Linked DNA regions of Homo sapiens. The protein of the gene in region 4 purifies or fractionates together with the protein of the main gene of each other region. This does not show direct contact. Each region holds a gene or a part of one and is shown on either strand. Other genes may lie near its edges. The genes, in order: HECW2, R3HDM1, PUM1, LITAF, REEP5, PTPRD and PUM2.

Region 1 (3,500 bases), on a different chromosome or scaffold from region 4:
GGGTTAAGGGGAGTGAAATTTCAAAACAGCTATAGCAAATCAATGACTACCACTGTACAACTGGGCCATGGAACAGTAACTTACCTCATGTCGATTCTTTCTCTACAATTAAAAAAAGTGGGGGAAAAATACAGATTGACGGCAGGTTCTGTGGCTTACTATTTTCAGAATAAGAACCATGAAGAAAAAGGGAATGTATGTGAAGATGAATCATGTCTTTAATAAAAAATAAAATAAAATAAATATTAAAATAAAAATCATGTCTTTCAATTAAAAAAAGTTAAAATATAGAAATATATAAATAATTTCAAATTAAGATAACAGTATTTTAAGGTAGTATAATATGGCCAGAAAGAATAATGGATCCAAGTTGTCAACCCGAGTGCCAGTTCCTGATCTGGCATTGATGATGGATGACTGCGCAGATGGCACTCATTCTTTGCACCTCCAGTTCTGTGTCTATAAAGGAAGACGCAGGCTGAATGATTCCTGTGGCATATTATATATTTAGGACTTTCTAATTTTATAACAAATTTCTGAATTATTTCACTGGTTTGGTTTAATTACTGGACTTGGACTAAGAACATTCCAGAAATCACTGCCTATGTAGTGGCTCTTATTCTTCTCTTTAATTCTTAGTTTCTTTCCTTATGACTCTGGGTTTTTGCTAATAGCCATGCCTACATATTTGTTTCTGTCTGTTTGTCATCTTAGTCTATGTGACCTGAGTGACCTAGAATACCTTGATGAAGAGTTCCATCAGAGCCTGCAGTGGATGAAAGACAATGATATCCATGACATCCTAGACCTCACGTTCACTGTGAACGAAGAAGTATTTGGGCAGGTGTGTGTATCTGCACACCTGGCGCCTAAGTGTGGTAACTGAAGGCTATTGATGAGTGAAGAATTAACTCCATGGCTAAGATCAGATGCTTATTTATTCGTGGTTTATTGGGTGATTTAAACTCAGGATCACACACAGTTATAATAACCGCAGTTATAAAGATTAGAATTAATGTCAGCTGCAGATTAAGATGCTGTAAATTACAGATGGTGATAACTGTTTATGTTGTAAGCAATCTTCTTTTTATTTCCAACTAAAATATCCCCCAAAATATGAGAATTTACCTTATATAGAATGCAGTTTTTTAAAGTCCACACTACAGAATTTTTTAATTGGCATTTATAGAATGGTGGCTGGGCACGGTGGCTCATGCCTGTAATCCCAGCACTTTGGGAGGCCAAGGCAGGAGGATCAGTTGAGCCTAGAAGTTCAGGACCAGCCTAGGCAACATGGTGAAACCCTATCTCTACAAAAAATACAAAAATTAGCCAGGTGTGGTGGCACATACCTGTAGTCCCAGCTACTCAGGAGGCCAAGGTGGGAGGGTCACCTGAGCTGGAGAGGTTGAGGCTGCAGTGAGCCTGGATCATGCCACTGCACTCTAGCCTGGGGGACGAGAGTGAGACCCTGTCTCAAAAAAGAAAAGAAAAATAAAGAGAACCAAAATTGATTTTTTTGAAGCTAAGGGAACATAAACAATGTTTTGGGGAAGACTTAAGAACAGAATATATTAATTTTTTTTTCAAAATTGGTGGAAGAGTAGGGAAAACGTTTCTTCCAGAAATTATATACCAGTTTATAATTAATATTCTTATTTAGGCATTAATCTTTAGCTGCTTTTCTGCATTCCATGTGTTTTGAAAAAGTTCTCAATTTAACATTCACTTGAGTGTAATTCTGCTTTAAAGTAAATCTTTACGCTAGATATAGTCAATTCTGAGAAATTTGTGAAAATGGGTTTTGTCAAACATTCAAATAGTAGCAGGCTAGTATCTGAAGCCGATTCATCGGCATTTTAAAACTTAACCTGTAGTAACAGCAATACATATATATACTTTAATCACCAAAGCTTTCAAGCACCCCCTCAATGCCTATTTTTTCCTGAGTGTGTGTGCTCCGTGAGTGCCTGGGGCCTCACTGCCAGCTTGTGGGATGTGCCTAGGGCAGGGCTGGGACAGGTAGCTGGCTGATTTCAGCTCAATGCTAGTAATGTTGTTATAACATTAAGAGTATTGCTTTGTAGTCATTCTTTTTATTTTGTAATCTCAGATAACTGAACGAGAATTAAAGCCAGGGGGTGCCAATATCCCAGTTACAGAGAAGAACAAGAAGGAGTACATCGAGAGGATGGTGAAGTGGAGGATTGAGAGGGGTGTTGTACAGCAAACAGAGAGCTTAGTGCGTGGCTTCTATGAGGTAAAGACAATCAGCAGTAGGAGGAGTTTGCAGTCTGATATCAATGATGCCACAGTCCATCTTATTGTACTTTACATGTGTAGACTATTTCTGCTGTATTTACTGTTGCTCTTTCCATGCGAAAAGTTCAGTATTTTTTCCCTTATGTTTCAAGAGCACCAAAAGAAGCTTAACTCACTGTTACGAGAGATCACTGAAATAAATGTTATGGACTGCATTCAAGTAGCATTTGTTGATTTAATGACCACTAGTAACATTTAAGCCATGCATCTTATGCTTAGATATGGGTAATCAAATCTCATGCTTGCTATGTGAAATAATTATATCTGAGATCAGAATGAGTTGGCATGTATTGTATGTGACTTTTTCTGTAGAAACACTAGATAGTTTCCTAAAGGTGGACGGGACCTAGATTAATCAGCAATCAATTATAAAACAAAAATTCTGTCAAGGCAAATCTCATCAACCTTATACTAAAGAATGCCTTATATTTGTAGGGAGCTTTACAGGTTTTCAAGTGCCAACACAAGGTACACACATATTATTCCTGAAACTCCATGTGTCCCCTTTTCTAAGGCTTAATTATAGCTGATATTTCTCCAGGCTCCTAAGCCATGCCTTGTACTCTTTTTATTCCACAGGTGGTGGATGCCAGGCTGGTATCTGTTTTTGATGCAAGAGAACTGGAATTGGTCATCGCAGGCACAGCTGAAATAGACCTAAGTGATTGGAGAAACAACACAGAATATAGAGGAGGTGAAATTTGATTTATAGATGGCTAGATTTTAAATTTCAAATTAAAGGAAGGCATGGTTCAGCTTGCCAACTGAATATAGGACAGGCAACAGCACTTGGACTCTAATCATAGGTCTGATGCAGGCTCCCTTGAGACCTTGGGCAAGGTACATTCTCTTCTTTTCCTAATTACCTCATCTGTCAGATGGGAGAAGGACTGTTTACACACCGTCAAAGGATGTCATAACTCTTAATTGTTGGTGAGGAAATGTGACCGTAAGAACACTAATTAATTACTTTATCGTGTTGTCAGTGAAGCACCAAGGAGCTAACATCCAGCTGGTCAAACTCCACCTATTCCATTTTGTTTCTAAAACTTAGAAAAGCACACCCTTTGAGCTTCCCAATCAGCACAGTTTTTCCACTGTTCACTACGCTCCTTATCAGTTGTAATTCATAGTCAGAACACTTGAATGGAATAAGACACAGTTCCCAAAATACAACA
Region 2 (3,500 bases), on a different chromosome or scaffold from region 4:
TACAGGCATGTGCCATACGCCTGGCTAATTTTTTGTGTTTTTAGGAGAGACGGGGTTTCACCATGTTGGCCAGGCTGATCTCGAACTCTGACCTCATGATCCGCCCGTCTCGGCCTCCCAAAGTGCTGGAATTACAGGCGTGAGCCACCGCGCCCGGCCTTCACAACTATTTTTTATACACCTTCACACTTCACTTTGCATCTCTGATCTCAGTGCTAAACCCCCATGTCATATCTGCCCTTCCATCTATAGGTTGGGAAAGAGTATGTCATGCATATGTCCTGCCAGGGAGCTGCCCAGGCATCTTCACTGTGTTCACCCGGAAGGAGCCTTGTGGAATGGCAAGAAGTCCACACCTTGCTGCTTTCTGTTATGAAGCTCTCAGGAGAAGGGGTGTACAGTTTCCTGAGGATGCTTTCCTAGCACCTACTGATAACCCTCCTCCAAACACAAAATGTACTAAATTTGAGAACTTAAAATAAATGAAAATGTAACACAAAAACCTTATTATCCAAGACAAAGTTTTTGCAGTCAGCATTTATTAAGCCTTTGCCGTGTGATGACTTCAGGCTTTCCTGAGTGATAGAAAGCAATTGGAAGATCTCCATCCTCATTAACCCACATTTACTGATTTAGGAAGGGAATACTTACGAATAATGACACTTAAGAACTACACAACTTTTTCTGAACAGGTTCAAATTATAAATGCAAATTTCACTTAAAGATTAAGAAGAGCAGACTTAAGACCTAGGATGTACAACTACCCATTGGTTAAAACTATTAAAGTGTGTTTGAGTATATGTAAATGTGTACATGCATATATTATATGCATAAATTTTTAGCAATTAATAGTGAATTGGGGAGATAAAAACTTAATGTTTATCCAGAGTTTCTTCCTTCCTCTGAAAGGTAAGATTTTAATCATAATAGAGTGATATGGATTTCAGCACCTCAAATGATTGGCATGTGTATTGTAGTTATTTTGGTGTATTTCATACGGGATGTTAGGATTTAGTGTCATAGTTTTCTTAGATTCTTCCTCTTCCATATCTTCAAAGTATCCAGAGAAGTTTCTCTCCATCCTGTCTCTATTCATGTAGTTCCTACCATGCACCCTCCTTCCTAACCACTGTTATTAGTCCTTAATCTTTTCAGAATTTTGCCTGGGCTCTTAAAAGGATATGTGGAAATTTTTAATTCTTGTTTAAAATGTCATTTAGCCAAGCATGGTGGCTTGTACCTGTAATCCCAGCAACTCATGAGGTGGAAGGATTGCTGGAGGCCAGGAGTTTGAGACCAGCCTGGTCAACATAGTGAGACTCTATCTCTACTAAAATAAAATTAGCCAGGCATGGTAGTTTGTGCTTGTAGTCCCAGCTACTTGTGAGGCTGAGGCAGGAAGATCACTTGAACCCAGGAGTTCAAGGCTGCAGTGAGCTATGATTGCACCACTGCACTCCAGCCTGGGTTGTCAACAGAGCAGTACCCTGTCTCCAAAAGAAAAATGTCAGTTATCTATACTTTTTTTATGCCACCATACTTGTTTCCCCTGTTCATCTTATTTTGAACAATTAGAAAACTCTGGCAAGTACTTTTTGTTTTATTTTATTTTTTATTTTTTTGAGACAGTCTCTCACTCCGTCACCCAGTCTGGAATATAGTGGCGCCATCTCAGCTCACTGCAACCTCTACCTCCCAAGTTCAAGCAGTTCTCATGCCTCAGCCTCCTGAGTAGCTAGAATTACAGGCGCCCACCACCAGGCCTGGCTAATTTTTATATTTTTATTAGAGATGGGGTTTCACCATGTTGGCCAGGCTGGTCTCGAACTCCTGGCCTTAAGTAATCCGCCTGCCTCAGCCTCCCAAATTGCTAGGATTACAGGCATGAACCACCGTGCCCGGCCTCTGGCAATAAAATAAAATATTTTATTGACTTTCAGGAGATTCCAGGTATCCATTACTTGGCCAGCCACTGCAGTACAATCCTCCTGCTGTTCTGCACGGACACATTCCAAACCAACAGGTAGGAAAGACAACTAACCTCCTAGGCTTTGTTGCAGAACATCATAGCTCCCTCAGAGTGTAAGGGGCAACCCTGAGCCCACCTGTTGGCACTGCCCAAGAAGAGCTCTGTGCCTCAGCCAGTTGGTTTACACAGATTATCACTGGCTCCATCAGGAGCAGAGCAAAGGAGAAGATGGTGTGCTGCTTGGCAGAGCAGTAATTCTCTAGTGCCACCCAAAGACAAGGCAGTGGCTAGGGATTGGGGCACTCTTGCTAATGAAGGACCGTCAGCAAGTGATCGGTCATAATGAAGGACAGGAATGCCACTGCCACAGGCAGAATCCAGAAGGCCTGGGACTGATTTTCTTCTGCCAGAGTGCAAAACCCAAACTAAAGGTGTTTTGGTGTTAATTTGTTAAACATCCAAAGTGTGTTTTTCAGCATTATTAACGTTGTTTCTCAACTATTTGTGGGTTTTCAGGGTCAGCCTGGCAGCAGGCATGGAAACCGAGGAAGGAGACAAGCTAAAAAAGCTGCATCCACAGACCTTGGAGCAGGAGAAACAGGTATGTCTCTGAGGGGCAACTAGATGTGGGTCTGCAAACTGGTGACAGTCTAAAAATACACCACAGCACAGAAATGGGTTTTCCTCTTCCTAGAATCCTGCAAAAAGTCATAATTTTTGCCATCTCTGATTTAGGGTTCTTGGATATGTTCCTATGACCTTGTGTCATTTGAGATGTGAGAGTATATATGGTAAGATGCAGGTAGGTTTAGGAGGGACAGAGGGGCCACAGGGAAATGTGTGAGAGGAACAAGTAGAGTGAAACTCTTAGCCTCTTAGTTCTTTGAGAAAGGGTTTGTCCTTACATCCATGTGGGAGAAAGTCTGAGTGAACAAATATGTTGCCTCTCTGTGGTAAAGTACCTTCAAGTTTATATTTTAACTTTCTACTCAGCAGCCTTGTGGTGTGGTTAGGGCAAGTGCTTTTATTTTATTTTACAATGGAAATGTGAAGTTCAGAAAAATGTTTGAGATCACCTAATTTAGAGAAGCCACTGTACAATGCCTCTTTTTATTTGTGCAACTACCAGTAAAGACTATGACATCAGTAGCTTAATTTTATTTTTTTTATTTATTTATTTATTTTTGAGATGGAGTTTCATTCTTGTTGCCCATGCTGGAGTGCAGTGGTGTAGTCTCAGCTCACTGCAACCTCCACCTCCCAGGTTCAAGCAGTTCTCCTGCCTCAGCCTCCCGAGTAGCTGGGATTACAGTCGCCCACCAGCACGCCCAGCTAATTTTTTGTGTTTTTAGTAGAGACGGGGTTTCACCATGTTGGTCAGGCTGGTCTCGAACTCCAGACCTCAGGTGATCCACCCACCTCAGCCTCCCAAAGTACTAGGATTACAGGTGCGCCCGGCTCAGTAGCTTTAACACTATTAGCCCTCTATTCCTTGCCTATCGGGTAAGTAGGAATGATTTAAAAGATGGAT
Region 3 (3,500 bases), on a different chromosome or scaffold from region 4:
ATGCAGAACATCAGGTAAAAAAAAGTTCACTATTTTAGCTTTGACATTCCTTTATAATCACTGTCCACTTAGGATATCTGCTTTCAATGAATGTCTTTAAAAACTTAAATTGCTGATTTCATTTGGTACAAACAGTTACTTGTTATAAAGGTTGATCATTGTAATACTGTTACTGGGTCATTTATCATTCTGGTGCTAAATAGTAAATAGCCAATTCATTCATTCATTCATTCATTTGAGACAGAGTCTTGCTCTGTCACCCAGGCTGGAGTGTAGTCGCCTGATCTCGGCTTGATCTCGGCTCACTGCAGCTGCTGCCTCCCAGGTTCAAGCAGTTCTCCTGCCTCAGCCTCCTGAGTAGCTGGGACTACAGGTGTGCACCACCACGCCTGGCTGATTATGTATTTTCAGTAGAAACAGGGTTTCACCATGTTGTCCAGGCTGGCCTCGAACTCCTGACCTCAAGTGATCTGCCCGCTTCGGCCTCCCAAAGTGCTGGGATTACAGTTGTGAGCCACCCACGCCCGGCCTATAGAATGCATTTTTTTTTTTTTTTAAGACGGAGTCTCACTCTTTTGCCCAGGCTGGAGTGCACTGGCGCGATCTCTGCTCACTGCAAGCTCCGCCTCCCAGGTTCATGCCATTCTCCTGCCTCAGCCTCCCGAGTAGCTGGGACTACAGGTGCCCGCACCATGCCTGGCTAATTTTTTGTATTTTTTTTGGTAGAGACGGGGTTTCACTGTGTTAGCCAGGATGGTCTCTATCTCCTGACCTCGTGATCCACCCATCTCGGCCTCCCAAAGTGCTGGGATTACAGGCGTGAGCCACTGCGCCCGGCCTACAACGCATTTTTAAGAACACTTTTTTTGGAACAAAGGATTCTTTTTTTTACTGTTGACATAAGAACTGCTAGGGTTGTTTATAGGATAGATACATATTTTTGAATCTTTTCTCTTGGGTGTGGGTGACTTGATTTTAAGATGTTGTAGTTGAAAGTAGGGGGAAGTTGATAACATCAGCTGCTCAAGTGAAATTTATTTGAAATGGGACTGATATATTGTGTCAGAGAGAAGTGGTTGTGGCTTTTAGGTTTTAACCACCTTTGTCCTCTTGTTATTGTTTAATTTTTAATTTTAACATGTTCAGTCTTATTAATCTAAAACCATAGTGGGAATCATAGCATATTTTACTGAGAAGAGAGGTTAGCCTTATCCATGTTTCCTGATTTCTTGATAATGACCAACCAAAAGATTAGACTGTTTTGATCAGGGTATTCTTTGAAATTGGGTATAGGTTGAATTTGGAAAGGTTCATTTTGTGTCACCCGTCAGTACTGATTAGCGAGAACTGACATTTTTCATTAGGCTTCTAGTGCTTCTGTTTTACTTCAGAAAAAATCAGGTACAAACATACCTGCAAGTCTGATTTTATTATACTTCCTCTGATCCCCCCAAAAGTGAACCATAGTTGTTTTTTTTTTTTTTTTTTTTTTTGAGATGGAGTCTCGCTCTGTCGCCCAGGCTGGAGTGCAGTGGCACAATCTCGGCTCACTGCAACCTCCCCCTCCCAGGTTTAAGCAATTCTCCTGCCTTACCTTCCCGAGTAGCTGGGATTACAGGCACCCACCTCCATACCTGGCTAATTTTTGTATTTTTAGCAGAGAGAGGGTTTCACCATGTTGGCCGGGCTGGTCTTGAACTCCTGACCTCATGTGATCCACCTGCCTCAGCCTCCCAAAGTGCTGGGATTACGGGTGTGAGCCACCATGCCCAGCCCTTTTTTTTTTTTCTTTTTCTTTTTTTTTTTTTTTTTGAGACAAGGTCTGGCTCTGTCATCCAGGCTGGAGTGTGGTGATATGATGATATTGGCTCACTGCAACCACGGTCTCCCTGGTTCAAGCGATCCTCCCACCTCAGTCTCCTGAGTAGCTGGGACTACAGGTTTGCAACACTACACCCGGCTACTTTTGTATTTTTTGTAGAGACGGGGTTTTGCCATGTTGGCCAGGCTCTACTTTGAGCCCAGGCTCACAGTGATCCACCTGCCTTGGACTCCCAGAGTGCTGGGATTGCAAGTGTGAGCTACTGCATCTGACCAGTTCTTTACTATAGTCGAAACAAAGACAGGCTGGGTGCAGTGGCTCATGCCTGTAATCCCAGCACTTTGGGAGGCCGAGGTGGGTGGATCACCTGAGGTAAGGAGTTTGAGACCAGCCTGACCAACATGGTGAAACCCTGTCTCTACTAAAAATGCAGAAATTAGCCAGGCGTGGTGGCGCATGCTTGTAATCCCAGCTACTTGGAAGGCTGAGGCAGGAGAGTCACTTGAACCTGGGACAGGGAGTTTGCAGTGAGCTGAGATCTTGCCATTGCACTCCAGCCTAGGCAATGGGTGAAACTCCATCTCAAAAAATAAAGTAAAAAATTAGCTGGGCGTGGGGGCACATGCCTGTGTTTCCAGCTGCTTGGGAGCCTGAGGTGGAAGGATTGCTTGAGCGTGGGTGGCAGAAGTTGCAGTGAACAGAGATCATGCCACTGCACTTCAGCCTGGGCAACAGAGTGGGACCCTGTCTCAAAAAAAAAAAAAAAAAAAAAAAAAAAAAAAAAAAGAAAAGAAAAGGAAGGTTTTCAGCTGTAAGGCTGAAAGAAGGCTCACCCCTGCAATCTCAACACTTTGGGAGGTCAAGGCAGGTGGATCACCTGAGGTCAGGAGTTCAAGACCAGCCTGGCCAACATGGTGAAACCCCGTCTCTACTAATAATACAAAAAAATTAGCCTGGCATGGTGGTGCACACCTGTAATCCCAGCTCCTCGGGAGGCTGAGGCAGGAGAATCGCTTGAACCCGGGAGGTGGAGGTTGCAGTGAGCAGAGATCACACCATTGCACTCCAGCCTGAGTGACAAGAGCGAAACTCTGTCTCCAAAAAAAGAAAAAAGAAAGATTTTCTCTTTCTTTGGGATGAAGATATGCACAGAATTTGGTGATTGAATTAGAAATCTTATATCCTGGAAAGATGAAGTAATGGAGGAAAAGTACAGAGTGCCTCTGGTTTGGGACACAGTGATTACATTTGATAGGACACCTGTTGAGTTTGAGGTAGAAGCAGAATATCTGGGTGTATACTGTAGGCAGCTCTACCTGTAGCAGGAAATCAAGGTAGGAGGTATTTGATTTGGGTGGCATCTGTGTAGTGGGGCAAAAACAAACCCTGTAATCTCTGTACTATTTGGCTAAATGTTATTCAAAAATCATAAACATTGGTTTTTTAAAATCTGTAATAAAGATCTATAAGATCTTTTGTTGTGTTTCCTAATGATAGACTGATGGGTGGAAGCTGAAAGGAGAGTCAAGGTGCCTGGCAGGTTCTTTGCTAGGTGAGCAAATCAAACTCTAGGTCAGTCCTTGGCAGAGCTCTAAGATCTGATTATTGCTGTGCAAGTTAAGAAGCGTTTATTGAAGGCTTACTCAGGCCTCTGTCTTACACTGAGCCCTATCATAAG
Region 4 (3,500 bases):
GTGTAATTTCATAGAGCTTAAGGCATGGACACAAGAAAGGAACCATTCTGGAGGGTGTCTATGTGATGGTAATTCTCTGCTCACCTCGCAGTAGGTAGGAGTTTATATACCAGGATCCAAAGCTGGAGGCTTCAGAGAAAATAATGTTGGAGAATTTAAGCTATTTAGCTCATGGAGCCTTAGATTTAATTGACAGTGTGCCTCAGGTAAGTTTAAGAGCTTAATGATGTCTTGCCTTAAACTTGAATCCATGAGGTTATTCCTAGATGATGCACTGATAGTTTGAAATTTTTTATTAAAAAATATTAAAGTGTGGAAGATAAAGAAGAAAGGCATAATCTTATAGAACGAAACAACTACCACTGGCTGTCCTTATCGGGCGGCTTCTGTCTTTTGTCTTTGTGCCTGTTTTCTATGAAATTGTCATCAGCGTTCATACAATTTTGTATCCTAATGCAGTCTCAGTCTTATTAATGATCTCCTTGCACTGTTTGATGAAAAACTGTGATTCACGTGGAAACTAGGGATGTGGTTTCACCAGGAGTCCAGAGGAAAACTGCCCACTCTGATTGTGGGGGAGCAGCCCAACTCCCCGATGGAAGCATTTTCCATTCCACAAATCACTGTGATTTGTCATTACGCCATGCTTGAACCTGGCTTTAAGATTGTGGTAACTTTATCTTTGACTTGTGGGACATACCGCCCTGCAGAAACAGCCTGAACTCAGAAGATGGAATTGGCACACATTTCTCTGAAATATTTCACTCTGAGCTTCTGTACTTTTACTGAGGTCTACTGAAACTGGAATTTGTTTGGGATCAAATAACCAAAGGCCAATTTCTCGCTTCCTTTCCCAAAGAGCTGGAGGTCCGGGTTTCCCCTTTTGTCTACCTTCCTGCTTAACCATTTATGGCTTAAGACGCACCATTCACCTTGAACATTTTCAGGAATGATAGACAGGTTAAATTCCATGACAACAAAAACCGTATTGCAGAATTATTGTAGCTTAAAACCTGCCAGGTGACCCTCCTTAGTTTAAGAATTTTAAGCAATATTCAATTTAATAAGTGTACAATTTGGATAGTTCCTGAAAGTTGATTATAGTCAGGATCCACTGTGCTCCCATTATTGGAAATAACGTTTTTCTCCAGAGACCCTAAAAGACCAGACCTTTTTGACCCTCGCAGCTGGTTCTCTTTCTTGTTTACAAACTAGGCTATTTTCTTAGGGGACCTGACAATTTGCATGTGAGTGCCCTTCTTTTGCCTAAGGAATCCCTTTTTTTATTCTGGGGTCATTTCTGCGATATACATATTCATGGGCCTAGCTTAGTGTTTCTTTTCTGGGGGCTGGGAGATGGAGACCAGAGTAGAATTGAATATTTCTCCTTTTTCTTCCTGGAAGAATCGATCTTCGAGGATTAAGTTGGTAGTTAAAAAGCCGCTTTATCTTTCTGAAGGCCTTGCCCTTTTATGTGTTGATCTGATACCCAAATGTAGAAAACAGTTCTATACACAGCTTGAGGATATATTTTTAGAAGAGTTTACCACCCACATGTGGCTAAAGCTTTGTGGGGAGTTCTTTTTTTTTTTTTTTTTTTCCGTTGTGAGTGAAATAGATATTTCACTATATCTTGCTCTTGTTTTCAAACCCTTTAAAAAGCCATTGACCATTTTCTCTTTTATTTTTAGTTGACACATAATAATCATACACATTTATGGGATAAAGAGTGATATTTTCTTATATGTCTCCAGTGTGTAATTGATCAAAGAGTAATTGGCATGTTCATCACCTCAAACACTTATCATTTCTTTGTGTTGTGAGCATTCAGAATTCTCTCTTCTAGCTATTTGAAAATATACACTGAATAATTGTTAACCATATTCACCCTACAGTTCTACAGAACAGTAGAACTTATTCCTCCCATTGAACTGTAACTTTGTACCTATCAACCAACCTCTCTCTAGCCTCTCTTCCCCTCCCCTTTGTAACCTCCAGTAACCACAGTTCTTTTCTCTACTTCTGTGAGCTCAATTTTGTCGTCCTTCCTTTGTGGAAGCTGTGAAATACCTTTCGAGGGGAGTGCGGACTTGTGGTCAGGTGTAAATATGCATTCAGCTGGGCAGAGTTTGGGAGATTCCTTTAAAACCTGTTCTTTTGCTGAAATTCTAGGTATCTTTTTATTTTATTTTATTTTTTATTTTTCACCTCATCAGTTAGAAGTGTCAGAAACTCTCCTTTACCCCCCACTTAGTCTTTGGCATTTAACCAAAATATACTTTATTTACTTATATATTTTTTGAGATAGGGCCTTGTTCTGTTGGCCAGGCTGGAGTACAGTGGCGTGATCACAGCTCCATGCAGCCTCAACCTCCCTCTCGAGCTCAAGCCATCCTTCCACCTCAGCCACCACACTAATTTTAGTGGTTTTTTGTTGTAGAGACAGGGTTTCGCCATGTTACCCAGGCTGGTCTCAAACTCTTGGAGTGAAGTGATCCATCCATCTTGGCCTCTCAAAGTATTGCCATTACAGGCATGAGCCTCACCCCAAAGCACTCAAATTTTGTTTTTTTAAATTGAACTTGAGTGCTTTGGGGTAAGACCTGCCTATTCCATTTCACCTTATAGTTTTTCTTACTCTTGGCCTATGTAGGGGAGAGAGAAGACTTTCTTTCTGCCTTCTGAAGGTACCATAATTGAGCCTATGAAATAAACTGATGATAGATTAACGGATGAAAATACATACAAATTTATTCCATGCATAAATGTGGGAGTCCCACAGAAAGTGAAACTCAAAGCAAGGTCAGATAATTGAAGTTTATGTAGTGTGCCTGAGCTACGAAAAAGGAATAAGCGGCTGGGCGTGGTGGCTCATGCCTGTAATCCCAGCACTCTGGGAGGACAAGGCAGGAGGATCGCTTGAGCCCAGGAGATCAAGACCAGCCTGGGCAACATGGCAAAGCCCTGTCTCTACAGAAAATACAAAAATTAGTCTGGCATGGTGGCTCATGCCTGTGATCCCAGCCACTCTGGAGGCTGAGGCAAGAGGATCGCTTGAGCCTGGGAGGTCGAGGCTGCAGTGAGCCGAGATAGTGCCACCGCACTCCCGCCTGAGTGACAGACAAGACCCTGTCTCAAAATAAAAAAGAAAAAGGAATAGGGGCCTGGGGCTCCTGGAGGCAGGTGGTGATAGGTTATAGAAGGGTAAGGGGAGGAAATGTATGGTGAACAAAGGTTGCCTTGTTAATGCAGATAAAAAGCCTCTTGAATGATGAAAGTTGTCTCAGAGTAGCCTCAGAAGAGCAGGTGATGGCTTGTGACCAGGTGTCGACCTTCAGTCTCCTCTCCTAAGTTAAGATCTTCCAGCCAGGCACGGTGGCTCACGCCTGTAATACCAGCACTTTGGGAGGCCAAGGTGGGTGGATCATGAGGTCAGGAGTTCAAGAACAGCCTGGCCAACATGGTGAAACCCCGTCTCTACTAAAAATACAAAAATTAGC
Region 5 (3,500 bases), on a different chromosome or scaffold from region 4:
TCACCATGACTACATGGGGCACTTCACTTTTTTGAACCTCACGTTCCTGAGTGAGCTAGACCATCTCTTCCCTTTTTTCTTGTTTTGGGTAGTTTGTGATTGTTATGACACATAAAGACATTTTTTAAATTGAACATTGTGCTATTTTAAATTAAAACAATTAAATGCTTCAATAATATGAGAAGATCTATTAAAAAATCTCTTTAGCTTAATAGACTCATTGGCCTTTTCCTGGCTTCTTTCATATGCCTTGGTTTTCTGCAAAGTTGTGATCAGTGTATGTATTCAATTTGGAGTTCTTTTATTTCTACTTTTCAATGTTACTATATAGTGTTCTAGTATATTAACATGGGGACTTTAGAATTCATATTGTAGATATGAATTAAAAAAGAATTTTTTTTTCCTAGAAGAGCTGAACTGTTAGGCTTCCTGTTTTTCAATCTGTGGAACTTGACTAACATTTAAAAAATAATGAAATAGAATGGAATTTAAAATATCAGAATGGTTTCAGGAAATATCTATTTAAGTTTATATTTTTATGTGAAGATGTCTGTTTACTGGATCATGATGTAAAATGTATGCTTACCGAGGGTTGTGGCCAAAAGAATTTAAAAGCCACTGGATTAACAATGACAGTCCCATCACATTTTGAGGTTTTTACGTCATATTCTAGAAAAGACTGTTTAATTCCCAGGTGTGTCCTGAGAGTTGCTTCTTTTGGAAGTACATAGTTGTGAGCTATTGCGTTCACAAAACTAAGACCTTGAGTGAAATGTAATTACGTATCTCCTCTGCCCAGAATGAATGTACAGGAAACAAATTTTTATTATACTAATAATTAAATAAATCCAATTAAATATGGATAAGCCATACTATACCAAATGAAACACAGCGGGAGAAGAAATCTTACACATAAAGGATATACTGTGTTCTTTGGTTAACATGCTTGTCTACACTTTTCCTTTGGCCTTCTATTACATTCGCCAGCTTCTATCTGAAGGAAGCTAAAAAAATACAGACTTTGTGCATACATTACAAGCCATTTTTTAATAATCAGCTCTCTTAAATTCATTTTATATGATTCTTGTACTTTGAAATATTTGGGGCTGGGTGTGGGAGCCACCAGACTGCACTTTGGGAGGCCAAGGCAGGAGGATTGCTTGAGGCCAGGAGTTCGAGACCAGCCTGGGCAACACAGTGAGACCTTGTCTCTACTAAAAATTTAGCAAGTAGCTAGGTGTGGTGGTGTGTACCTGTAGTACCAGCTACTTGGGAGGCTGAAGTGAAGGGAATTACATAAGCCCAGAAGTTTGAGGTTGCAGTGAGCTATTATTGTGCAACTGCACTCCAGCCTGTGCAGAGACCCTGTCTCAAAAAAATAAAAATTTTGCCTAGTCTTGAAGTTCAAAGCAACATTCACCTTATTACTTGTTCCTCTCTCTGTCTTCCTCATTAGTAATCATCTCATTGAGCTACAATTTTTCCCCTTTTGGTTATTTTCTAAAACTCACACACATAGCTGCTTCTAATTAACTGTACAAGGGCTTTCTTAGTGAGTGACTGAGCATGATTTAGCAGCCTGACTGTCTCTTTGGGGAGCTGATGTTATGGAGTAGCCAATGTATTTGCTTTTTGAAAATTTTTTATTTCAATAGGTTTTTGGGTAACAGGTGGCGTTTGGTTACATGGATAAGTTTTTAGTGGCAATTTCTGAGATTTCGGTGCACCCATCAACTGAGCAGGGTACACTGTACCCAATGTGTAGTCTTTTATCCCTCACTACCCCCAGCCCTTTCCCCAAAGTCCCCATAGTCCATTGTATCTTATGCCTTTGCATCCTCATAGCTTAGCTCCCTGTCAATGTATTTTCAGTAGTTAACCTGTTTCATAGGCTAAACAAGATTCAGAGTTCTTTTATTTTACTGTTTCAGTCCAGCTCAGTTACGATAAATATCTAGATCTGTTAGGATAAGAAATTGTGGAGCTTCAGGTTTAGAATAATGAGATTCCTAGGACTGAAGGAAATTTCTGTGATTTAGAAAATTATTTTAAATGTATTTCCATCCATTTGCAGAATGAATTTTGTTTAAGCAATAGTTAGGGTTGGGAAAGTCCTGTTATTAACTGAGGAGAGGAGGAAAGTCCATAGCCTGTGGATCAGTTAAAGACATTCTGAACTAAATAGACACCATGAGGTTTGTTTTCACCCGTTTACTATAAAATATGCTGTGGATTTTGGGCAGTACCTAACCTATGTTCCAAATGTTGCTTTATGGGAAATTCTTATTCACCCATGATATATCTCAATTATTAAAAGTACATAAGAACCTGGTTATCACGAGAGAATTCTTCCTGATATATCCCTCGTGGCAGGACCCAGCTTGGGAGTGGAAATTGCTCTAGCTCCCAGTCACTAGTGGTATATTCTAGGACTTGTGGGGAGGCTTTGGCAGGGTGGAGATCCAGGGCAGTAACAGCTGGTGCTGGTTTCTCTGGTGACCAGGAGACTAGAAACAAGTGGTTATAATGGCTTGTCCCGATATCCACATTGCTTCCAGTCTTTAAGCTGTACTCTTGCATCTAGTGACACAGTGCCTACATGTGCCTAAGTTTCTCAGTGGTATCAGAGGACAGGTTATGAAAGTGTATTTGAAAATCTTTCATTGATATCTTACCAAATGATATACTTTCTTTTGTACTGCCTTTCAGAATTAAAGCTATAGAGAGTCCCAACAAAGAAGATGATACCCAGTGGCTGACCTACTGGGTAGTGTATGGTGTGTTCAGCATTGCTGAATTCTTCTCTGATATCTTCCTGTCATGGTTCCCCTTCTACTACATGCTGAAGGTATGTTGGTCTTGCTACCACTAAAACTCCATCTCAGTACCTGTATAGAAGAAGTAGGAATAAATGCTTGAATGTTGTGCATCTGTGGCTCTGTCTCAGATTATAAACAAGAAGACAGGCCTGGGCAACAGAGCGAGACTCTGTCTCAAAAAAAACAAAAACAAAAAAATGCTCAAGCAAGCCACTTGCCTCAGCCTCCCGAGTAGCTGGGACCATAGGCGCACACCACTGCACCTGGCTACTCTTTTAAACAATTTTATCTAAAGAAATTTAGATATAGGAAATTAAATATAGGAAGCTCCATCACTCCAACCACCATCATAAATGGTAGTATCTTGAGTTTTAGTTCTGGTTAATTATGGATATATAATTCTTTTTGTCTTTGGTCTTAGCCTTTTTTTTTTTTTTTCTTTTTTTGAGATGGAGTCTTGCTCCGTCGCCCAGGCTAGAGTGCAGTGGCATGATCTTGGCTCACTGCAACCTCCACCCCCCAGGTTCAAGCAATTCTCCTGCCTCAGCCTCCTGAGTAGCAGGGATTACAGGCGCCCACCACCATGCTTGGCTAATTTTTGTATTTTTAGTAGAGACAGGGTTGGTTTTTTTAAAAATCTATTTATTTGTACTTCTTCTGGGAGATTTCTCAATCTGACCT
Region 6 (3,500 bases), on a different chromosome or scaffold from region 4:
TGTTTCTAAAGTGGAACCAGTGTAGGCCACTTACGAAAAACCTGTATTTAGAATTTAGGAAAAATACTCACATAAGCTAGCATCCTTGGGATTTTTTCCCAATAATTGGCCTCAAATCTTTATAATCAAAGTTAGAAATTCTACTCAGTGGAAAAGGATGGAGGGGGTAGAGAATGGTAGAAGGAGTGACTCATTAATCTCACGCTAGAGACAGAATTATTTCATTTCTTATTCTTCACCCAAATGGTTATCAGGATGAAAGATAAATCTTTCACCTTGGGGTTAGGTGGTCATCAGATTTCTAGGGAAGTCTGGCTCACACTTTTATCTTGTCACTTTTCCGTTTTTTTGCTGTTGATAACAATATAACCATCTGGAACCATTGAGAAGGACAGTTTATTCATGAACCATAGTAATTCCTGTTTGATTTTGCTACAGAAATCAAGGATAGGACAATAATTCAGGTACCATATTCACATTATGCACTACTCTTAGAAGTTGCACCCTCTTCTATTTTCAAACTACTTGCAGAGGTTGCACCCTCTTCTATTTTCAAGCTTGTAAATGTTGTCAAGTCAGAATCACTAGTCAGGATTATGCAATATGCATAATACGGCAGCATAAATCATATAATATTATCTAGTCCCAAATATGTATTGAGTCTCCTATGTGTCAAGGAGTGCTGAGTAAAACAGCCATGTGCTAGCAATTTGAAACTACCCAATTGTGACCATCTTATGGTCTTATAAAATGTATCCACGTTATCATAAAATTTTTGATTCCATAGAGAAAAAGGAATCTCTTCCCTAAGGCATTTCTCCCTTTATATCACAGAAAAATTTCCAGATACGTATCTACACTTACCTTATTGTCCTTCTCCTTTGCTGTCATCCTGAGTCACAGCTATTGCTTTTAGAACCTAGGTGGAAGCTGTGTTGCTTATTAGGCAGTTGCAGTCTATGCTGTTTTCCACTGGAATTTCTTGGCACCCTTCATCATCTTCTCACTCCAGTGCTAATTCCTTATGTGTGTTCAACTCTCCAAAGTTCTAGAAAGGCAGTAAAGCATGATAAAAATACGCCGTACTATCCTAATATTGACACAATATAAAAACACAAATAAATCGCCAGACCACTGCAGCAGTTTACAGTCTATGCACCAGTCCCTTATATTTCCAAATTCATAGAATACAATAGCAGTTACAGTCAAGACTCATGTTATTTTCAGCTATAACCAAAGCATAATAGCAGAAGTGCTTTGGTTTTCTCAGGAAAGAGAATAGACAGAGAAAAATGAGGAAATTCTTCCTGTACCTTTTGAGGTGAGATATTCTTATAAGAGGACTTATAATGTGTACTTTGGATCAAATAACCAAAGAGGAAGGCAAAAGTGCAATTTAAATGTTTAGAAATGTAGTGGGATTGTTAGATACTGCTGAAGTTAATAAGTTACCCTAAGTTCACGTCTTGATTTCTCTTAAAAAAAATCATGGAAACATCTATGACTTAAGTTTGAAGAGTTTCCTTTTTTATTCCCCCTGAAAACCTTTATCAAAGTACTACTCAGCAGGAACTTTTGAAAAACAGTGCCAAGATGATATATTGTTTCACCTTCAAAAAACTTTTATACCTGTAAATTTTAAAGCTAAATTATGTGCATCACAAGTATAGAAAAAATATTTCCCATTTGTAATTTCCTATTTTATTATATAATACATTCAATTAGTTCTCAATTAACACTTATCTATGGTACCTGTTTCAATGGACCATGGCTTATAATTTTAGTGTGTAAGAATTCCAGTGGCAACTCCTCTGAATAGATGTATTTATTGTGTGTCATATGTGCTAGCCATTTGTTTTCTCCTAGGAAACATATGTGGTTAGCTCTGAAAGAATAGCTTAGCCTCATCATTTATACCTGTGTGGTTGCAAGCAACAAGGCTTTCTTGCAGTATAATTGTCTCAGGGATTAAGTCTAGTGCTTTATTCTCCCATTTTCCTGCCCCTCAGGAGGATATTCCTTCCTTTTTATTTTTATTTTTTTTAGGGGCTTGAAGTCTTCCTATTTTCCCATACACCTCTCCCACTTGGAAAACATGCCAGGATTTAATAAAACAAATTACACATTCACTAAGACACATTCATACTGGCTTTTTGAAGTATTACATCAGTGCATTCTGAGAGATATTCTGATGGTATTATAGATACAGATATAGATAGCTATTTTAAGAGAAAGGAATTTCAGGCCATATTCAAGAATGCTTTGGTGTGAATCAAATGCTGCTGAATACAGAGATGAAGAAGCTAGGTCAGAATATGGTCAGAATAGGTCAGAATATATGGTCCTCACCATGGCAGGCTTTTCTTTCCTCCATTACTCATCAGTTCTCTTCCTATTTCTGTTTCTATTGCCAAGTTCCCCTCTTCTGCCTATGTTTTTTAACTTCATAGGGAGCTATGGTGACACACAGGAATGACTATGTTGGCCTTATGAACAATTAAAGGGTGTGTTATTAACATTATTAAATAGATTATACTATTGTCTGTATTGTGCATTTCTCTTACAACTCATTCATCCTTCTCATCCATATAATAATCTGCAGCTCATATGTAGTTTATCACTTCTTGTAGTGGGATTAAAAGAAGTATGTAATTACACTTTTTTGTTTCTAAATCAGAGATGGTTTCAAGGTCACTATGATCTTTTTATTCTTCTTGGTTTCTTGAATTTTATCTCTTATATACTGCCTCATGAGTTCTTGAGAAATCTTCAGATAGAAGGTAATAATAATAGCCAACACTTATTGACTGCTTCATATCTGCCAGTCACTATTTTAAGTGCTTTCCATGCATTAACTTATTTATACCCATATCATTCCTGTGAAGTTGGTACAATCATTATCTTTGATTTATAAATGAGAAAACTAAAGCACATAGAGGTTAAGTTGCCTAAAGTTAATAACGTATTTTCCCAGATGTGCATATTAGTACGGAAGGTAAATGCTACAGTTATCTAGATTCTGTACATGAAAAGCAGAAAAAGTGTGAGATTGTGGATCTGCTTTTATAAGACAAATTCTTTCAAATGAAGTGAGCACAAGTTATCATAAGTAAATGATCACAAATGTGAATGCAGGAGGACAGATACTGTAAAAGTGCTGCCCAGGGGAACAAAGAAGCAGAGGGCAAATCATATCAAGGAAAACTAACTCCAGTGTATCTCCTCCCAAAGTTGAGAGTTAAGCGTGGCACAAATGCTTCTGAGTGTATTTTTTTCTTCCTTTGGGATTTCCAATCTGTCAGAAAGAGAACCTGCTGTGCTCTCTGCCTTTCCCTGGGGTGGCCCTTCAAGCTCGGGTCCCTTTTCCTGGGAAGATTAATTCATTCAGTTCCTACCACTCTAACCTCTACAGCCTCTTGGCGTCAGATTTTATGGTATATCAGCTCCTTAAACACCTTGTTGTACTTGATAATCCATGACCAAAAGCCACAATTTTTGAA
Region 7 (3,500 bases), on a different chromosome or scaffold from region 4:
TGTGTGTCTTACAGGTGAAGTGTTTATCTGAGCACTGTTTATTATATTTGAGCTGAATTTAGCCTACTGTGTTTAAAGGCAATAAAATGTTCATGCTGCATTATCACTAATTTTACTGTAACTCTCACTTCTGCATAGTATTAACAAAATAAGACTTAAAAATTGATGTTGGAATGTATTTCAGTATAGTCTGTGTTTTTAAAAACTTCTTAAAGGACCAGACACAGTTGGGAGGCTGAGGCGGGAGGATCGCTGGCCCAGGAGTTAAAGACTAGGCTAGGCAACATAGTGAGGCCCTATTTCTGTAGAAAATAAAAATAAATTATCCGGACCTGGTGGCATGTACCTGTAGTCCCAGCCACTTAGGATGCTGAGGCGGGAGGATCATGTAAGCCCAGGAGTTTGAGGCAGCAGTGAGCTATGATTATGCCACTGTGCTCCAGCCTAGACAACAGAGCAAGACAGCACTCTTTAAGGGAAAAAAAAGTTGCCAATGCATGTTTTGCTGATAGTTGTAAGGTTATTGGGCCTCAGTTTTTTGTCGCTTTATAAGGCAGCCTTTCTAAACTGAGTTCCAGAAAAGAATAAAGCCTTATTACTGCTCTGAAGTATCCACAGTGTATATAGCTAACTTCTCTCCTGTGATTCCAGAGTGATGCTTGTTATATACCATCCTTAGGAGAATTAACAAAATACTTACTTAAATCATTTTCTGTGTTTTTGGTTCAACAGAGAATCTCCATTGAGAAAGGCTGCTAAGAAGTTAACTTTATTCTCCACTATTTGTGAAGATTACCTACCTTGTGCTTAAGGCTACAATAAAACTAAAGCCTGTGTGATTTTTAATTAAACTCTAGCTTGAGAATCTTCACAAATAGAATGTTTGGCTTAAGTTTTTAAAGAGATGATTACAAATGAAAATCTAACGGAATGCTGGTAATGAGGCACTTGATTTTGAACTTCAATGAAATTGCACAGTAAACATTTCGTACAGTGTTCTACCTCGCTACTCCCAGTTTTTTTAATCCTTCTTCTTCGAAGGGCTAAATGGTGATTTTTTTTTTCTAATATCAGCCCTTCCTTCATAGCCTGTAGTTTCTATATTAAGGAAAATACCTCTTCATTTTGTGGCCCCTGAGTAAAATTTAGAGAAAAAATGTTTAATGACAGTCTATTACTTTTTCATATATTTAGTAAGACCTTGTCAAATGTGTTGCTTTGCATATATTAACTAAGGATTTTATAGTAATGGTACAAATAGCTGTGTTGTCTAGTTGAAAAAATACAAATGCAGGGAAAAACAAATATGCATGTTTTTGTAATAAGTGCTTTCATTAGTAAACCTTTATTTTATTTAGGCTATCAAGTACTAGCTCCAACTGCCTATTATGATCAGACTGGTGCCTTAGTGGTTGGCCCTGGAGCAAGGACTGGCCTTGGAGCTCCAGTTCGGTTAATGGCTCCAACACCTGTTTTAATTAGTTCAGCAGCAGCACAAGCTGGTAAGTGTAACTGACATTTTTAGGATAATATTTTTCTGGTGTTGAGATACCATTTTTAAAATACAGAATTTTCTGGGTGGTTTAAAGAAGTATCTGAAATTTATTTTACAGCAGCAGCAGCAGCAGCTGGAGGAACTGCAAGTAGCCTTACAGGCAGCACAAATGGTCTGTTTCGGCCAATTGGCACTCAGCCACCACAGCAGCAGCAACAGCAGCCAAGCACTAATCTGCAATCTAATTCATTTTATGGAAGCAGTTCTTTGACTAATAGCTCCCAGAGTAGTTCTTTATTTTCTCATGGACCTGGTCAACCTGGAAGTACATCTCTTGGCTTTGGAAGTGGTAACTCTTTGGGTGCTGCTATAGGCTCAGCCCTCAGTGGATTTGGTTCATCAGGTAAGTTTGTTTTTACGATGAGTGTACTCTGCTAAGTGGAAGAGGTATATGAGTGTGTTTAACATTAAAATAAGCAATAATAGCATGTAGGATAGGAAGGACAGGAATAAAGTATTGGACTACTGGTTTAATTTGTAGGAAAAAAAAATCCTGCAAATCTTTTCAACACTCACCAATGTTTAACTCACTATAGGCAGCCTGTTCTTTACTCATATATAATACATTTCCTTTTTCCCTGGCTCTAGGAATTGATTACTGTAATTTTTGTTTTAGTAGGGTTTATTTGGGTCAATATATTATTCACTAATTATTAGCTCATCTTCATTCACTACATAATGTTTGTGGAGGCAAATATTTTGCCGTCTTAAATTTTTGGTATTTTAAAGCAGTTATCTTTGTGTCCTTATTAGATGGTTTATTCTTATTAAATGCTGGTAGTTTATTACAGTTTTTAAATTTGGCCTAATATAAAAAATACATATGTGTATGTATAAATACTGAAATGTTCTACACAGAATCCCCTAAGAAGCTACCAGTATGGTTATCTTTTAGATTAAATAAGTTAGCCTTTGTCACTAAAAATTCACTTAAAAGGGTATCTATTCATGTATCTTAGCTTTATATAACACTTAACAAATCAAAATTTTAAATAGCTTCACTAAATAATTGACCCACTCAAACTGGTTCCTGGATCCTGTGGTAGAGGAAGAACTAAGTGAAATCAGAAGAGGCCCACGTTGACTTCTTGTTGATACACTTGGTGTTTTCTGTGAGGTTTCCACAGTACTCAGGAAACATTAGGGAAAAAACAGCTGACCCAGTTCTATCGGTGCAGCTGGCAGCTTTTACTTCATGAGGATAGGACTATTTGGACCTCAAGAGATTTTCTGTTTCTATAACATAACTTGCTACAGTCCTTAATATCTGTTTCTGATCTCTTTTCTTACCACATCAAATTATATTCTTTTCTGGTGTGGAAAATGGCAGAACTAACACATGCCAGGCATTATTAACAATGCTTGCCAGTTTTCTAAGGGAGTGTCTTCTGAACTTTTATCATTCATATATACAGGAAGGATGGTCTAGAACAGCCACAAACTTTTAGATGGCAGAATCTTTTTTCATTTATTGTAATGAAATACAATAAGTGGATGTCATATTGGACTGACACAAAATTATCTGAAGACTGCTCATAAGAATTTCTGAGGGAAAATCCAGTGAACATGGGGATTGTTAAATCTTTTCAATTTTGTACTTGAGTTTTTTCATTGCTTTTGGAGTTGTGTATCTCTTTGTCCACCTCACGCACTCCCATAGGACTCATTCCTTGTTTCTAACACAATTGGGACATTTTCTCCAAAGAATCCTAAATATTCTGAGGAAAACTGGAAGAACAAGTAACATAAAAAACAAACTTGTGGAAATAGTTTTTAAATTATAAATTGTAGGCCCTAAATAATTCAGAAAAAAGAGAGCATTGATTAAACCCCATGTTTCCTTTCTCACGTAGTATGTCACTGATCGTCTGGTTCAGATTTCTAGGCCCCTACTCAATTCTTTCAAATTTCCATTTGTTTCTTAGTTAAGGCTGTTTTCCCCCTT

The links.
Region 1: the proteins of LITAF (region 4) and HECW2 purify together in Homo sapiens (affinity purification with mass spectrometry; 2 studies listed by BioGRID and IntAct, with this or other methods). This does not show direct contact.
Region 2: the proteins of LITAF (region 4) and R3HDM1 purify together in Homo sapiens (affinity purification with mass spectrometry; 2 studies listed by BioGRID and IntAct, with this or other methods). This does not show direct contact.
Region 3: the proteins of LITAF (region 4) and PUM1 purify together in Homo sapiens (affinity purification with mass spectrometry; 2 studies listed by BioGRID and IntAct, with this or other methods). This does not show direct contact.
Region 5: the proteins of LITAF (region 4) and REEP5 purify together in Homo sapiens (affinity purification with mass spectrometry; 2 studies listed by BioGRID and IntAct, with this or other methods). This does not show direct contact.
Region 6: the proteins of LITAF (region 4) and PTPRD purify together in Homo sapiens (affinity purification with mass spectrometry; 2 studies listed by BioGRID and IntAct, with this or other methods). This does not show direct contact.
Region 7: the proteins of LITAF (region 4) and PUM2 purify together in Homo sapiens (affinity purification with mass spectrometry; 2 studies listed by BioGRID and IntAct, with this or other methods). This does not show direct contact.

Annotation. Positions count from the first base shown.
Region 1 is NC_000002.12:196,219,555-196,223,054, reverse strand, and holds part of HECW2 (E3 ubiquitin-protein ligase HECW2), read left to right. Parts: intron 1-714; coding exon 715-844; intron 845-2,113; coding exon 2,114-2,260; intron 2,261-2,901; coding exon 2,902-3,016; intron 3,017-3,500. UniProt on the Homo sapiens protein: E3 ubiquitin-protein ligase that mediates ubiquitination of TP73. Acts to stabilize TP73 and enhance activation of transcription by TP73. Involved in the regulation of mitotic metaphase/anaphase transition.
Region 2 is NC_000002.12:135,719,984-135,723,483, forward strand, and holds part of R3HDM1 (R3H domain-containing protein 1), read left to right. Parts: intron 1-1,940; coding exon 1,941-2,023; intron 2,024-2,485; coding exon 2,486-2,570; intron 2,571-3,500.
Region 3 is NC_000001.11:31,055,718-31,059,217, reverse strand, and holds part of PUM1 (pumilio homolog 1), read left to right. Parts: coding exon 1-14; intron 15-3,500. UniProt on the Homo sapiens protein: Sequence-specific RNA-binding protein that acts as a post-transcriptional repressor by binding the 3'-UTR of mRNA targets.
Region 4 is NC_000016.10:11,580,420-11,583,919, reverse strand, and holds part of LITAF (lipopolysaccharide-induced tumor necrosis factor-alpha factor), read left to right. Parts: intron 1-3,500.
Region 5 is NC_000005.10:112,901,728-112,905,227, reverse strand, and holds part of REEP5 (receptor expression-enhancing protein 5), read left to right. Parts: intron 1-2,709; coding exon 2,710-2,848; intron 2,849-3,500. UniProt on the Homo sapiens protein: Plays an essential role in heart function and development by regulating the organization and function of the sarcoplasmic reticulum in cardiomyocytes.
Region 6 is NC_000009.12:10,603,003-10,606,502, reverse strand, and holds part of PTPRD (receptor-type tyrosine-protein phosphatase delta isoform 1 precursor), read left to right. Parts: intron 1-3,500.
Region 7 is NC_000002.12:20,281,345-20,284,844, reverse strand, and holds part of PUM2 (pumilio homolog 2), read left to right. Parts: intron 1-1,358; coding exon 1,359-1,502; intron 1,503-1,613; coding exon 1,614-1,898; intron 1,899-3,500. UniProt on the Homo sapiens protein: Sequence-specific RNA-binding protein that acts as a post-transcriptional repressor by binding the 3'-UTR of mRNA targets.